Homo sapiens: one gene and its partner. The protein of the gene in region 2 interacts with the protein of the main gene of each other region in a pairwise test. Each region holds a gene or a part of one and is shown on either strand. Other genes may lie near its edges.

Evidence for each region. The genes of interacting proteins can lie anywhere in the genome.
Region 1: the proteins of PSMB7 (region 2) and AFP interact in a two-hybrid assay, tested with the Homo sapiens proteins (one large-scale study listed by BioGRID and IntAct).

The regions. Positions count from the first base shown.
Region 1 is NC_000004.12:73,453,221-73,456,674, reverse strand, and holds the end of AFP (alpha-fetoprotein isoform 1 precursor), read right to left. Parts: intron 2,911-3,454; coding exon 2,778-2,910; intron 1,440-2,777; coding exon 1,395-1,439; 3' UTR 1,385-1,394; intron 1,045-1,384; 3' UTR 501-1,044; downstream 1-500. UniProt on the Homo sapiens protein: Binds copper, nickel, and fatty acids as well as, and bilirubin less well than, serum albumin. Only a small percentage (less than 2%) of the human AFP shows estrogen-binding properties.
Region 2 is NC_000009.12:124,401,943-124,405,442, reverse strand, and holds part of PSMB7 (proteasome subunit beta type-7 precursor), read left to right. Parts: intron 1-10; coding exon 11-126; intron 127-3,500. UniProt on the Homo sapiens protein: Component of the 20S core proteasome complex involved in the proteolytic degradation of most intracellular proteins. This complex plays numerous essential roles within the cell by associating with different regulatory particles.

The sequences.
Region 1 (3,454 bases), on a different chromosome or scaffold from region 2:
TCTGCTTAGCTATCACTGTGGTCCTCTGTTACTCATAAGATATTGTCCAACCTCTTTAGAATAGAGCGCTGAGAGTCTGGATTAGCCCTTCATAGCTTCCACATCCTGCCTAACATTCTACATCTCTACCCTTCCTACCTACCCTGTACTCCTCTAAAACTATTCATCATACTTTGTCATACCCAGTACCTCTGACCATGTTTCCTCTTTCATAAAATGGCCTTCTCTTTTACTTGAACTGATGAATGCTCATTCATTTTCTAAGACTCTTCTTAAACATTTATGGCACCTTTTCCAGTCAGAACTGATGTCACCCACCCTTTCGTTCCCTCAACAATTTGTTGTCAACTCCTTGTGGTCATAATCTGAGGCATCATTATTGTGTTGCTTCCTTCTCTACTGAAGCGACTGGAGAACAGTGACTGTACCCAGCCCAAGGCCTGGAACTCAGTGAAGGCTTAATAAACATTTGTGGAATAAAAATTTAATTGATGAAAACATTAATTATATTCAATCAAAACTGTAATATTCTTATGTTTTAAAATGTCTGTGAATAGAGAACTGAACAAGATTGAGAAAAAAAGTAGATGTTAAATTTTCTTAGATCCCATAGAAGAATAATAATTTCTTTTCTCATCTCCAGATTATCTGTTAGAATACTTCAGTGATGGTCATTTAATAAACAAAATGCCCTGGTAGCATCAAATAGTGTTTAACTTGGGAACATTTTTCAGTTCACCAAGTGATCTAGTGCTGTAAATCCATCCTTGGATAGCTTTAATCTCCTATAATAACCAACACTTAATGCTATTTTAACAGAATCTGCTTCAGACAATGGTATACAAAACTAAAGAAATTATCGATAACTTTTCATAAATAAGCAAACTTGGAAAAGGAAACATTTGGAGATATTTTATTTCTGTGATAAGGAAATCTCACATAAAAGTCTTTATCATTTCATTAATTCACAAAAAGTGTTAAATCAGTTAAAATTAAAGAGAAAAGTTCACACCGAATGAAAGACTCGTTTTGTCTTCTCTTCCCCTGCAATATGAGCAAAAATATATTAAATACTAATTAAACTAATAGGTGCAGTAAGTAACTGGTTCTATTATTTTATATCAGAGAAATATTGGATACGTAGGAAAGTCTTCTGATAGCATTTGTTGAAGTCTTTTAAATAACCAAAAAGGATTTTGCATAGTTGAGCCACTAATTTAACATTGTGTGCGTAATTTTGTTCAAGTGTTTTTAAAATAAACTTTTTTTTGAATTCCATGTATTTTTAAGAGAATTAATGGCACTCCTCATGATCTATCTCATTATGGATTGATATTTCTGGAGAAACAACATTGTATTCAGGCTTGTCTGAATGTTTTGTTACCTGAAGTAATTTAAACTCCCAAAGCAGCACGAGTTTTTGAAATCAGTTTTTGTCCCTGAAAATTAAGAATAAACATAATCAGATAAAGAAATGGATTATTATACCAATCATACAGTTAACACTCTACAATCCGGGGTGAATTCATAGGTTTGTAGATTAACTAAGTTAAAAATGAAGAAACACATCTCTGATGCCAACAACCTGGGATAGTAAAAGCCAGGGAGAAAACAATATTCTTTCACATCAACAGTTTTCTTCTATAACAATCTCCAAATCAATGCGTATTCTCAATCTTTCCCCTTCCTCTACAAATTACAAGTTATTAGAAATTAAAAGGTTTGCAGATAAAGCACTGCTACTATTTGTTCATGTTCTCTATATCTAAATAAATGTCTTCTCAGATTAGAGAACATTAATCTTCTTGTGTCATGTTTTTCAGAAATGCTTCACATCAAATCTGTTTCACCAGTTTTATCTAATTTGGTTATCTATGTCCCACCCTACCTGATCCCACCAAAAACACACACATATACTGGTAAGTGCACACACTCAAATGCATCTAATTATATTATTTATAGAAAAACTCTACATTTCTAAATATATCTGTCTTTGGATTTTACATGGTGAGAAAGGTAAAATTGACAAAAACGCTAAGTTATAGAATATCTTTTTAAAGTATAGTGTTGCTATATTCAAATATATGTAGCAATACAAACTAAAGATTTGTAAAATTTAGCCAATTATCTTGATTGTGATAATCATTTCACAATGTATAAATATATTGAAACATCACATGTTCACCCTAAACATATATAATTTGTATTTGTCAATCATGCCTCAATAAAGCTGAAAAAAGGTAATTTTTTTAAATGTTAGGTAGAATCCCCTGGTTAAAGAAAATCTGGCTAATTATCCAGCTAAAATTACTATGTAATTAAAATAACTCCTAAATACTACTCTGTTGATGTACAAAAGCAAGCTTCTAAATGAGTTCAAAAACATTTTCTACAAATAGACTCCTAATACTCTGTTTGCACAATTAATTTGCTATTAAATCCTTTAATCCATTTAGCTGAATTGATCAATTTTAGGCCAGAAACTATCTAAATTACCGTCAATTATTTACACATTCACTTTATGGGTTTCTCTACTAGGAAATAAATTAAAATTACTAATTCTATTAATATATTTTAATATTATAAATTTTCCTAATATTAAGCAAGAAAATGTGATTATTTTTTAAATCTTATAGAATCCCTCAATCTGCTTCTCAATGAAATTTAAATCTCTCTGAAAATATTTTAAAGTTATAAATTTGTAGGGTCTTCCTTTCATTATCCACTACAGAAAATTCCATAGCAAGTATTTTGAGTATGAAATGAGCTGCATGTACCTCTTCAGCAAAGCAGACTTCCTGTTCCTGGCCTTGGCAGCATTTCTCCAACAGGCCTGAGAAATCTGCAATGACAGCCTCAAGTTGTTCCTCTGTTATTTGTGGCTTTTGCTTCACAAGGTTAATGAGAAACCTGTGATTTAAAACAAAACAAAATACAAGAGAAGTCTGTTATGCAATGCTATTTTTCTACAGCCTTCCTAGTAGAGAATTTTCAGAGCCTAAACCCTTACTCCATCAACCTATCACCAGACTGACCACACACACCTTGTCTAGTACTTTCAGTAGAAAGATTGAGGCTGAAAGCATGCCAAGTGTTCCACCAGCCTGGAGTTGTGCAGGTTGTGGATAAAACACTATTTCATACTTGACCATACTTATGTGTAGTGGAAGGCAATCTCCCCTCATCCCCCAGGAATATCCTTTCCTGTCCGCTCTTCTTAACTGTGTCTTATCTACACTCAAAGACCCAGATCTCCGAATCCTGCCCATCCAGTTATCACACCCCTTATCTGGGCACTGGCAGCACTAATTGCCTGCACTGCTCACTTAGCAAGCCTTTCATGTTGGACTTAGACCAGAGCAATAGAAAGTAGACCAGAGCAATAGAAAAAGCTTGCCAGAACAGGCAACATTCTTATCATACTGTGAAACATACCTCAGACTGTGATAGAGGA
Region 2 (3,500 bases):
TGATCACCAGGTATCAAGGTTACATTGGTGCAGCCCTAGTTTTAGGGGGAGTAGATGTTACTGGACCTCACCTCTACAGCATCTATCCTCATGGATCAACTGATAAGTTGCCTTATGTCACCATGGGTGAGTGTAACGTTTTCCTGATGTTTAAGAGTACTCTTACTTACCACGATGGTCTCTTGAAGAGCTGGTCTGTTTTCTCTTAGAAGAGGAGGTGCAATACAATGCTTTGATTCATTCAGCAAATATATACTGAGTTCCTACTATAGATTAGGCCGTGTTCTAGGTGCTTGCTATATAGCAGTCAACACAATTCTGATAGTGATTCCTGCTCTCGAGGATTTTGTATTTTAGTGAGGGTAAATAGACAATAAACAACTGTGAGAAGTATATTTATAATACACAGGTATTCTAAATTAATACACAGGTATTATAAATATATATAAATATACACAGGTTATACAACCTGTGTATTATGAATATATTTTTATAGTCTGAAATCTGAAAAGCTCCAAAATCCTAAAGTTTTTGAGTGCTAACATGATACTCATTGTAACATTTTTATTTTTATTATTTTTTTCTTTTTTGAGATGGAGTTTTGCTCTGTTGCCCAGGCTGGAGTGCAGTGGCATGATCTCGGCTCACTGCAACCTCTGTCTCCCGGGTTCAAGTGATTCTTCTGCCTCAGCCTCCCAAGTAGCTGGAGTGATAGGCACACGCCACCATGCCCGGCTAATTTTTTGTAGTTTTAGTAGAGATGGGGTTTCACCATGTTGGCCAGGCTGGTGTCAAACTCCTGACTTCAAGTAATCTGCCCACCTCGGCCTCCCAAAATGCTTGGATGGATTATAGGCATGAGCCACTCTGCCCAGCCTCATTGGAGCATTTTTGATTCTGGATTTTTGGATTAGGGATGCTGAATTGGGTGAGTTATAATGTAGATATTCCAAAACCTGAAATCTGAAACACTTCTGGTCCCTGGCATTTTGGATAAGGGCTACTCAGCCTGTATTAGAAAGTGATACTAAGAAAAAAAGTAATACAGATGATATTGTACTATAGTTACACAAGATACTATCTTTGAGAGAAACTGAGTCAACTTCATATGGAAATGCTCTATTTTTTACATCTGCATATGAATTTGCAATGATCATAAAACAAAAAATTAAATTCACACATGATAAGGGGACTTGGGAGTTGTGGGCAGGGGCTGGGGTGGAGGCAGATGGCAGTGTTAAATAGAAAGATCAGGGCCAGGCACGGTGGCTCATGCCTGTAATCTAGTGCTTTAGGAGCCTGAGGTGGGAGGGTTGCTTGAGGCCAGGAGTTTAAGACCAGCCTAGGCAACATAGCAAGACCCGGTCTGTGCCACATATATATATAAGCTGAGTGTGGTGGTGTGTGCCTGTAGTCCCAGTTGCTTGGGAGCCTGAGGCAGAAGCATTGTATGAGCCCAGGAGTTTGAGGTTGCAATGAGCTGTGATCAAGCCATTGTACTACATCTTGGGCAACAGAGTGAGACCCTGTCTGTTTAAAAAAAAAAAAAAAAAAAATGTCAGGACAGGTCTTATGAAGAAGGTGAGATTTGAGTAGAATTCTAGAGTAGAAGCCTTACATTGAAACTTGGCAGGTACATTTTGACCTAGAGGAGTGATTGTGGTCCTTCTTTACTACTTAATCTCTGAGGGATTGGGGTATTTGATTTCTATCTGAACCTCAATTTCCTTACCTGTGAAGTGGTATTGGTAATACCTACCACACCAAGTTGTAATGGTTGGAAATAACGTATATAAAGCATGTGCTCCAATGCCTGGCCTGTAAATAGTAGTTATTTTTTTGCCCCCTCTCTTCCTCATTTGCTAACCAGCTTTTTGCATTTATGTTTTAGCTCTAGCTGCTAGATTAGGAGATTTTTTGACAGGCTCTCACTCTGCTGCACAGGCTGGAGTACAGTGGTGCAATCACAGCTCACTGCCACCTCGACTTCCCCGGGCTCAGGTGATCCACCCACCGCAGCCTCCTGAGTAGCTGTGACTACAGCCATATTCTGCCACACCCATCTAATTTTTGTATTTTTTGTAGAGATGGGATTTTGCCATGTTGCCCAGGTTGGTCTCGAACTCCTGGGCTCAGGTGATCTGCCTGCTCCAGCCTCCCAAAGTGCTGGGATTACAGGTGGCTGATAATTTTTTTTTTTTTAATGACTGCAAAAAATAGTGATAAAATTATATTTAGAAGAATTGGGATTTTCAAGTTCTAACATTTACATTATTGCTTCTGGGTCAAATTGCATAGGTCCAGAAATTCGAACAGGTTGTGTGTATCGTGTAGCTGGTGTTTTTCCAGCTGTCATTTACCTCTTAATATTTTCTGTCTTGGTGTCTTGGCTCCACATCTAGGAAAACTGCTGCCTTGAGTAGTTTGGAAATTGCCAGTTTGAGACTTTGCTATGCCATTGTGTTGTTATCTAGCCTCTTACAAGGTTTTTATATAACAGATGTTCACTGTTTGTTGGGGAGAATGATTTATCCCCAGATACCATACGGATGAATCTTTGCAGTTATTCTAAAATGAAGATACTTATGGTAATTTTAGAATTGTTCTGAATTGCTTTATTCAAAGGTATTAGGTATCTCCATCAAAGTATTGCTTTTATTTCTCCCCATCTGATACCTTTAAATGGTGGTAAAGGTGGAATAACCTTTTCTATTAAGTAGTTTTTATTTTTTCTTTTTTTTACTTAAATTTCAGACTTGCAGAAAAGTAACAGTAACGTTCAACAAACACTGATCTGTCCTTTACTCAGATGTGTCAGTTGTTAGCATTTTGACACATGTGTTCTGCCTCTCACACACACATTGTTATTCCTATCATTGTTTCGTGTGCGTGGGGAACCATTTGAGGGTAAATAGCAGGCACCACAGCCTTTCACCTCTGAATCCTTCAAGATGTTCTCTTCTGTCACCTTGATAAAGTCATCAAATTTAAGAAGTTTGACATTGATACAAAGCAGCTTCATTTGTAAAATGGGAAAATTGGTTTCTCTTGCCAGTGAACTGTGGTAATTTGTGTCATGAGCATAAAGCTGAATTAGGAAAAGTTGTTGAAAGTGAGTAGGTAAACAGCTTTGTGTCTGCCCATTTTACTTCTGCCGCCCAACTTTGTGCTTTTTCCTGGCCAAGAGTGACCTCCTGTCTGTCCAAGTCTCATTTGAGTTCCGGGTGATGGGTCCACAGCTCTTGAGTTTATAGAATAATTCTATTTAGAAACCACTGACTCCACACAGACTGGTTTTGCTGCCCTAAAATGCCAGATTAAGGAGAATGAGACATCAGTAACATCTGATTTTAATACCCAAGTAAATTGTTACTTTGAGGTCTTGTTTGTTCCTCCACTCATTTATCAGCTTTTTTTTTTTTTTGAGACTGAGTCTCGCACTGTCACCCGGTCTGGTGTGCAGTGGCATGATCTCTGCTCGCTGCAACCCCTGCTTCCCG